Regions from separate parts of the Homo sapiens genome. Here regions 2 and 3 are each linked to region 1. Evidence: fine-mapped expression QTL. A gene starts in region 1. Each other region holds a variant in brackets. All regions are shown on one strand. Distances are from middle to middle. Region 1 holds the start of CCDC85C (coiled-coil domain containing 85C). Region 2 overlaps CCDC85C (coiled-coil domain containing 85C). Region 3 overlaps CCDC85C (coiled-coil domain containing 85C).

Evidence for each region. PIP is the estimated chance that this variant, and not a neighbour inherited with it, causes the effect. A credible set is the group of variants that fine-mapping cannot tell apart.
Region 2: its variant is the best candidate, but not a certain one, in a credible set for the expression of CCDC85C in whole blood (TOPMed, PIP 0.89).
Region 3: its variant is the best candidate, but not a certain one, in a credible set for the expression of CCDC85C in whole blood (TOPMed, PIP 0.63).

What each region holds. Positions count from the first base shown.
Region 1 is chr14:99,603,041-99,605,705 of GRCh38, reverse strand. It overlaps CCDC85C (coiled-coil domain containing 85C), which reads left to right and starts at 1,499. Exons shown (of 6, transcript NM_001144995.2): 1 at 1,499-2,539. The coding sequence starts at 1,747. It also overlaps a transcript of HHIPL1 not described here. RefSeq lists silencers at 295-444, 625-694, 755-894, 1,035-1,564 and enhancers at 1,825-1,944, 2,651-2,665.
Region 2 is chr14:99,516,821-99,519,607 of GRCh38, reverse strand. CCDC85C (coiled-coil domain containing 85C) reads left to right here. Exons shown (of 6, transcript NM_001144995.2): 4 at 2,425-2,520. Among named protein-coding and RNA genes, the nearest start is that of CCNK, 37 kb to the right of the region's middle. The variant T/C (reference allele first, on the strand shown) is at 1,296.
Region 3 is chr14:99,523,797-99,526,583 of GRCh38, reverse strand. The region is part of intron 2 of CCDC85C (coiled-coil domain containing 85C); the gene reads left to right. Among named protein-coding and RNA genes, the nearest start is that of CCNK, 44 kb to the right of the region's middle. The variant T/C (reference allele first, on the strand shown) is at 1,176.

The sequences.
Region 1 (2,665 bases):
ATGACAGCAGCTCGACTTAATGCCCCGCACAGCACTTAAGACAAGTCTCATCCTGATCTAGCTCGTCTATCTTCTCCCCATCCTGCTCCCAGGACGCCAAGTCCCCCGCAGAGGGCAGTTCGGTGCCCTGCAGAATCCCCCGGGGCTGGAGCAGGCCCCGCGGCGAGTAGGCGCTGAGTACACAGCTGAATGAACGGCTTAGCAACTGTAAATGGGGCATCAGCTGCTGCGCGGGCGCGCGCTCCAGGCCGTGGGCCGCTCACTGTCGCGTGCGCGGATTTGATCTCGTTGCAGGTTCCGGGGGAGGGACCCCCCCCCGCCCCGCCCCGCCCCGCCTGCTGGCGGTAGACGCGCCGTAAATGCGCTTTGGGGACCGGAGGATAACGAGACAGACTTACAGGCAGTGGGAAGCCCGGGGGTCCCGCGAGGCCGCCGGTGGGGAGTTCTGTGGCCGGCTCGGCGCCCCCGGACCCCGGCGTTCAGGCCCCAGTGGGAGACCTTCCCACCCTTCCCAGTGGTTTCCACCCCGCGAATTGCAGATTATCTCCCGAATCCCAGGGATTTAGCGGTCGAGTGAGCGGAGGTGGAGCGGGGCTCCGAGCGCCGCTCCGGGCAGGGGGCAGGTTCCCGGAGCTCTCGCCCCATCGGGGCAGAGAGTACTGACCGCGCTGCGGGACGCGGCTGGCAAGGCCCTGGCCCTGCAGGGGCGCGGACGCCAGCGTTTAGCTCAGCCCTGGGCTAGGAGTGGAGACGCAGCCCCGCCGCGTGCTCCGGCAGGGGACCCGGGTGGGGACGGGGGCGGAGGAGCCTGGGGGCAGGGAAGGGGACAAAGAGCCGCCCTGCTGCGGGGAAGAGCGACCCCCATGTCACAGTCCTATTGTTCGCTGTGTCTCCGACTGCCCTGAACTCTGGTGCCCCCGGGAGGGAGAAGGGGCGCCGTCGCCCGGATCGTGGGTATTTGTTTATCTGGGGAGAGGGAAGAGGACCGGGGACGCGGGCCGGGGAGGGGGCTCGACTGCTATTTTCGCGCGTCGCCTTTAAGGGAAGCCCGGCCCTACCTTTCCCACCGTCCCCCTCCCCGCAGCCGTACCTGCATTTTAAAAGCGCCCTGTAGCCCTGGGATTGGCTAAGGCCGCGTCCTCCGGGCGCAGAAACTTGAACCGCCGGGAGCCGGCCGCGGGCGGGGGTCGGAAACCCCGCGGATGGACCGTACCACCGCCGCAGCTTCCCCCGCGCGCGCCCCGCCCCTCCCGCACACCCCCGGAGCGGCCCAATCGCCCGGCCGGGAGGGCGGGACCGCGGCCGGAACGCGCCTCTGAGAGGGCACTGGACGGGCGGGCGCACCGCGCAGGGGGACGGCGGGGGCCGCGCCTCTGCTCCCCAGTCGCCCTCGGGGGCGGGGCCGGGCCTCGGAGACCCGCCCACTCTCCGCCCGGGGTGGGCGGGGCGGCGGGGGCTCCGGGAGCTGGGCCGGGGGCGGGCCTCCGCCTGCTTCTCCAGAACCCTGAGAGCGCCCGGCACCGCGGCCGCCGACGCAGCAGCCGCCTCCGCTCGTCAACCCCGAGGCGCGCGGGCTCCCGGGCGGCCCCGGCGGGCGCGGCGAGAGGACGCGCCAGGCGGCGCGGGGCGGGCCGCACGCGCCCCCGGCCGCCCCCCGCCCGCGCGCGGACCGGCCCAGCGGAGCCCCGGCGCGGGGAAGCGCCGGCCGGGCGAGGGCGAGGGCGATGCCGCGGTGACGGCCCCGCCATGGCTAAGCCCGCGGCGACGGCGGCGGCGGCGTCGGAGGAGCTGAGCCAGGTGCCGGACGAGGAGCTGCTGCGCTGGAGCAAGGAGGAGCTGGCGCGGCGGCTGCGGCGCGCCGAGGGCGAGAAGGTGGGCCTCATGCTGGAGCACGGCGGCCTGATGCGCGACGTGAACCGGCGGCTGCAGCAGCACCTGCTGGAGATCCGCGGCCTCAAGGACGTGAACCAGCGGCTGCAGGACGACAACCAGGAGCTGCGCGAGCTCTGCTGCTTCCTCGACGACGACCGGCAGAAGGGGCGCAAGCTGGCGCGCGAGTGGCAGCGCTTCGGGCGCCACGCGGCCGGCGCCGTGTGGCACGAGGTGGCCCGCTCGCAGCAGAAGCTGCGCGAGCTCGAGGCGCGCCAGGAGGCCCTGCTGCGCGAGAACCTGGAGCTCAAGGAGCTGGTGCTGCTGCTGGACGAGGAGCGCGCGGCACTGGCGGCGACGGGGGCCGCAAGCGGTGGCGGCGGCGGCGGGGGCGGCGCCGGCTCCCGCAGCTCCATCGACAGCCAGGCCAGCCTGAGCGGGCCGCTGTCGGGTGGCGCGCCCGGCGCGGGGGCCCGCGACGTGGGCGACGGCAGCAGTACGTCCAGCGCGGGCAGCGGCGGCAGCCCCGACCACCACCACCACGTCCCACCCCCGCTGCTGCCCCCCGGGCCGCACAAGGCCCCCGACGGCAAGGCAGGAGCCACACGTCGGTCCCTGGACGACTTGTCGGCGCCGCCGCACCACCGCAGCATCCCCAACGGCCTGCACGGTAAGGACTACACGGGCCGGGCAGCGCGGGTCTCCCTGGCTGCAGCCCTTTTCCCAGGCTGCGGCGAGAGGAGGTGGTCCCTGGCTGTCCCACTCATGCGGCCGCCACTCCAGACTCCTCCAGCTG
Region 2 (2,787 bases), 86 kb after region 1:
TTGGCGACAGGTATTTTGTGGATGTCTATTTTCAGTTCTCTCTGGTGCACACTGGTATCCTCACTTTGGGCACCAGCTCAGGAGTCCCACAGACTTGGGTTTGGCGCCCAGCCCCATTGTTTACAAGCTGTTTGGTCTTGGGCAAGCCATTCTCTTAGCCTCACTCTCCTTGTCTGTAAAGTGGGCATGTAGGCCAGGCTCAGTGGCTCACGCCTATAATCCCATCACTTTGGGAGGCCAAGACAGGAGGATTGCTTGAGTCCAGGAGTTCAAGACCAGCCTGGGCAACATGATGAAACCCCATCTCTACCAAAAAAAAAAAAAAAAAGCTGGGCATGGTGGTGTGCATCTGTAGTTCCAACTACGCTGGAAGCTGGGGTGGGAGGATTGCTTGAGCCTGGGAGGTCAAGGCTGCAGTGAGCTGAGATGGTGCCACTGTACTTCAGCCTGGGCGACAGAGTGAGATCCTCTCACTCAAAAAAAAAAAAAAAAAAAAAAAAAAAAAAAAGGCATGTATGAACATGTAAAAAGATAGTGCCTGCTGGGAGCAGTGTGGCAAGGACTCAGTGGGCCCATCTGCCCTAAGTGGGTACCTAGTCAGTGGGAGGTGTGTGTGGCCCGAGGGGGCTGAGTTCTAGTACAGGTGGGGGCCCCTGCACCCCGGGAATGCCCTGGAGGTAACACTAGGGCTTTGTCTAGTCCTGGTGTCACTTTCAGGATCCCGGGCCATGCCCTCGCTGGCACCCACCACTGCCCAGTGAGGCGGGCAGGAGAGGGGCGGCTTGCACAGCCCACCCCCACGCTCCTGGCTTCCCTCCTGCCTGTGCTGCAGAAATCCCAGCCCCCTAGAGCCGGGGGCTGTAACAGGACAGGCAGCCCAGGGGCCTGGTGCAGATGAGGCCAGAGGTGCCAGGGGCCGGCTGGCACATGGCCTGTGTTCTGCAGCGGAAGGTGCAGGAAGGTGTAGGTGCCCAGGTCTCCCAGGGCCGTATGTGTGCGACTGGCGCCCCCTGCTGTCTGGCGCGGGGAGTGCCGCCTTGCGTTGCCCCAGGGGGAATCCCCAGCGTCCCTGTTGGGTTCCCTACACTACAGAGACCCAACAGCCTGGGCTGGAGTTAGGGGTCTGCACACACCCTGGGGCAGAGGACCCTTTCTATTGTCCAGACGAGGAAACCGAGGCTCAGCGTGGGTTGAGCCCCACCTCAATGACGCTTTCCTAGACCCCAGGGCTCGGGGGGCCTCCGGAGGTAGCAGCTCCCAGGCCCCCTAGCCTCAGGGGTGGGGCCTGGTCTCCA[T/C]GTGGAGGCGGGAGCCGGTCAACCTGCAAGGCCCTGGGAGCAGGTCCAGGCCAGGGCGGGCGGGGAGGGCACCAGGGGTTGGCTGCCAGGCCTGCAGGGGGTTCCAGGTCCTGAGGGTCGCAGAACCCAGCCCTGCAGTGTTAGGTGGCCCCATGATGCAGGCCTGGGTGGGTGGGATTCCAGCCCAGCTCCCTGAGCTTGCCAGGCCGTTGGGAGGCGTCATCAGGGCCCCATTTACAGAGAGGGCGGCAGACTCAGCTTCCATGGTTGGCCCAAGGATTGCCAGAGGTGGGAGCCCCGAAGATGTCCTGGAAACCCCGCTTCCAGGGCCCACAGGGCACCGCTGGGTGTTTTCTGTCTGGCTCTGGGCACTTGTAAGTTCCTCCCAAGCCTCTCCCAGCATCTTGTGACCTGCTGGTTTCTGTTGGGCCCCTGTGGTCCCCACTGCAGCCCGAGGCAGAAGCCCTGCACCTGGCTTCCCAGCCACATGGACCCTTCCAGGCAGGAAGCTGGGGGTGGGACTGCCTGCCCCTGGGTAGACACGCAGCTTCTGACAGAGGCTGGGTCCCCTCCCCAAGGCCTGATGTGGGAGCTGGGCACCTGGCAGCCAATTCATCCCGCAGGGCTGGGAGGTGGCAGCTGGGAGGCAGGCCCCAGGGAGTGCTCAGGGCGAAGCCGGCCTCGCCCACCGGTGGCTCCAGGGTGGGCAGGGGAAGGGAGTTTGGAGTCAGGTGCCAGGGTTAAGTCCAGACCTTCCTGGTCTTGCTGTGATCTGGGTCTCTTGCCCTCCCTAGGCTGAACTTACTTTCCTTGCAAAACAGACGCTAGGTCTTATCTGTGGGGTGTTGTAGAGGAGCCTGAGAGGTGTGGGTGGGCCCTGGACTGCCCCTCTTGCCTCTGTGCTATCAGGGACCATTTCATCTGCAGAAGACCTGGTGGGCGGGACTGGCCAGACTGGCTGTGGGCTCCTTGGGTCTCCATCCTCACACCTGCCTCCTCTGCCTCACCCCGGTCCCCTTTTCCTCCTGCCTGGGCCCTGGCCCCTCAGAATGGGGGCCTTGTCTGAGCCACCGGTCATTCCTGTGGGAGCCAGCCAGGGTGAGCTGAGATGTGTGATTGCCTTCCCCAGGGCCCGGCCTGCCCCGCACCTGAGCTGCCCTCGCCCCCCTCTGCTGGCTACAGCCCTGCAGGACAGAAGCCCGAGGCTGTCGTGCATGCCATGAAGGTGAGGGCCACTACCCGCTCCCTCAGAAGTCCTCAGATGCTGGGTGCACTGTGAGACTGTGGGACCTTTGCACCTAGGGGTATCCAAGTGGCAGGGGTGGGAGGTTTCATCTGTGTGTGGGTGGCTGGGTGACCATGGCTGCCTGGAGCACTGTGAGGTTGAACTCAGAGGTGGCAGTCATAAGTGTGTCACCTGTCTGCCATCCCTGAGCTACTGCACCTAACAAGACTGAGGCCTGGGGTCGGGGAGGGCAGGCACCCAACTAAG
Region 3 (2,787 bases), 79 kb after region 1:
GTCGCCAGGTCTTGGGGACGGGGTGGTCACTGGGCCGTGGCCTTGCTCCCTGGGTCTCACCTCTCGCCTCCGTAGCCCCTGGGATGATGGCTTATCTGTGGGAGTGGGATTGGTGGGAAATGTGAACTGGAAGGAGCTCTCTCCAGCTCCCTGTCCTCCAACCTGGCTCCCATCCCAGCCTGGGGACTGCACAGTGACCACGGGGACCTGGAGACCATCTTAGCACACGCTCAGGGCAGAGGCATTGTTAGTGCCTGCAGGAGCTGCACGGGGCCTGGGCTCATGTGGCTTTTTCCTGCCCAGGTTCCCATTGCTCTGAGGGTGGATGTAGGCCCCTCCCTGCAGACGGCACCTTCAAGCTCTTCAGCTGCGGTGAAACTGGCCTCTTGTGACAGATCCCCTGGAGCCCCCACAGGCCAGAAGCAGGAGGGCACCTGACCCAGGAGAGTCTGGGCTGGGGGAGGCCTGTGTTGGGGTCCTCTCCCTGAGCCCCACAGTGTCTCCCAAGTCAGACACAGTCATTGGCATGACCTAAATTTGGGAGGGGGAGAGGGATGTGGCTGCGTTGCTGTCCACTGTGGTCCTGGACCCTGGCCACACCTGGCTGTCCGGCTGAGCCGAGCTGTGCTGTGCCACACGGTGCCAAGGGCCCATGCTCACCTGTCAGCCATCCTGGAGGGTGCTGAGGAGGGAGGAGCCTCGCAGGTCCCCACCCATCCCTGCACCGAGCACTGAGACACCGGTCCAGAGTCGCGCCAGGTGGCCCCTCCACGAGGACTCCTTCCCAGGGCATTCTGTATGAATCAGCCTGGGGCTTCGAGTCTGGTGGTCCAAGTGGTCACTTGCGGGCAGGCTGCCCAGGTGGGGACACAGGGCACCCCCTCTTCAGTGCCTGCCTCCACCCGCACCCCCAGCCCTCACTCCCCTTTAGTTGCAGCCTCCCTGATGGGGCACAGCGTGGTGCCTGGCACACAGGAGGCGCTCTGTTTGTGCCTCTCGGACACATAACCGATGCAGCACATTTGAGGGCCCAAAAGCTCTCTGGGAGCAGGAAGCAGGGTGACAGCAGCTCCCCTAAGCACAGCCCAGAAAGGCGCTTCCTGCCTGCAGCCACCCCACCCATCCTTTCCAAACAAGCAGCCTCAGGTGGGCAGGCTGGGGTGGGTGGGCTCTGT[T/C]TCCATGTCTTATCCTCTTTCTGTTCAGCATCCCCTCTGACAATGCTCCCTAGGGGTCACCCCAGGGTGGCCCCACATAGGCCCCCTGCAGCTTTGCAGGCAGGCATTCGCTGCAGGACGGGGTTCCCCTCTGGGGAGAAGGCTGGGCCGCACTGCAGAGGCCCAGAAAGGGCTGGGGAACAACTGGAGTTCACCCAGCGAGTCCTCGCTGGGCCCTGAGTTGGGCAGTGTTGCAGTGAAGGCCCTGGATACAGGCTGGAGGTGTCCTGAACTCCGGTCCTCAGTGGAAAAGGAGGCCCTGCAACCTCCTGGGTCTCTTCCTCCCTAGTCCAGGACACTCATGCTGCCCTCTGGAGGCTCTAGAAGTGAGTAATGCGGATTGGGCCTGGCCAGGGTGGAAGGGGCCACGCTGAGTGTTTGGCAGGGCTGGCCCCACCCTGTTAAGGATTCGGGAAATCTTGTTTGAGCTCTGAGCTGGCAGCTCTGTGTGTAAGATCCCTTCTCCCTGGGTCCTGAGGGAGCCACCCGAGGAAGACTGGGCAGGTGGGTGTTTCTGGGGAGCGGCAGTGGACCCCCTGCCTCCCCCTGAGGAAGGGCCAGCACCTTCCTTAGCTGGGGCTCTTCTCTGTGTGCAGAACAAGCCCAGCAGGTGATTTCAGCTCCTGCTTCCCCTCCTCGGGGAAATCCTAGGGAATCTCATTCTGCAAAGGCAGCGACCTGTCTCATAGCAGGATTTTTAATTTGGATTTAAGTGCAATAATGGTTACTCATTTGATGCGCCATTAGTCACATTGCCCCTTAATGAGAGATTGTGTGTTTTTCCTGCCTGGCTTTGTGGCTTGCTAATAAAGTTCTATGGACATGCAAATGTTTATAGAGGCTCACCGAAGGCAAGGGTGGGAATTGCGTGCAGCTAATTAAAAACCTCCCTCACGCTCACGCACACACATCTCCTCCCAGGGAAATTATCTGGGGGAGGGGAGGGGACGGCAGCACAAACCTGCGTTTTCGGTAACAGCACGTGGGAGCCCATTTGGTCGAGGGCCAGAGAGGATGTGGAGGAAGGGACGCCGGAGTCCAAACAGAAGCTGAGCAGGGCAGGGCAGGGCCGGCTGAAGGGGAGGGCAGCTGTTCCAATCCCAGGTGTACCCTTCCTGGCTGTGTGGCCCAGTAGTCAGACTGTGTGTATGTGCACGCACGCATTCAGAGTGTGTGCTGGCTTAGAATGCATTCTCCATTGGAGAAGATTTTGTAACTCTCTTACTGTTGCAGAGTCCTGGCCAAGAAAATCAGGTGGTTTGGAATTTTCGCCCTTAAGTGGAGCTAGGGGTACATCTCTCAGGAGAGGTGACCCAGAGAGGCATGGGTGGCTCTGATGGGGTGGGGGGAGGGGTGTCACTCATGGTTGGGGGAGGGTGAGTGCTGGGCCTAGGGGTGGGGGCTGTAGCCTCTTCCTCTTTTTGGTACCTGGTGGGTGGGGAGGGGGCTTTCCTTGATCTGACCTCCACCTGCGGGCCGTGAGTGCCTCTAGTTAACCTAGGCAGGGTCAGCCAGGGTTAATGCCGTGGTCAGGGCATGGCAGTCCCATTTGATGGTTCAGGGCTGTGCCCAA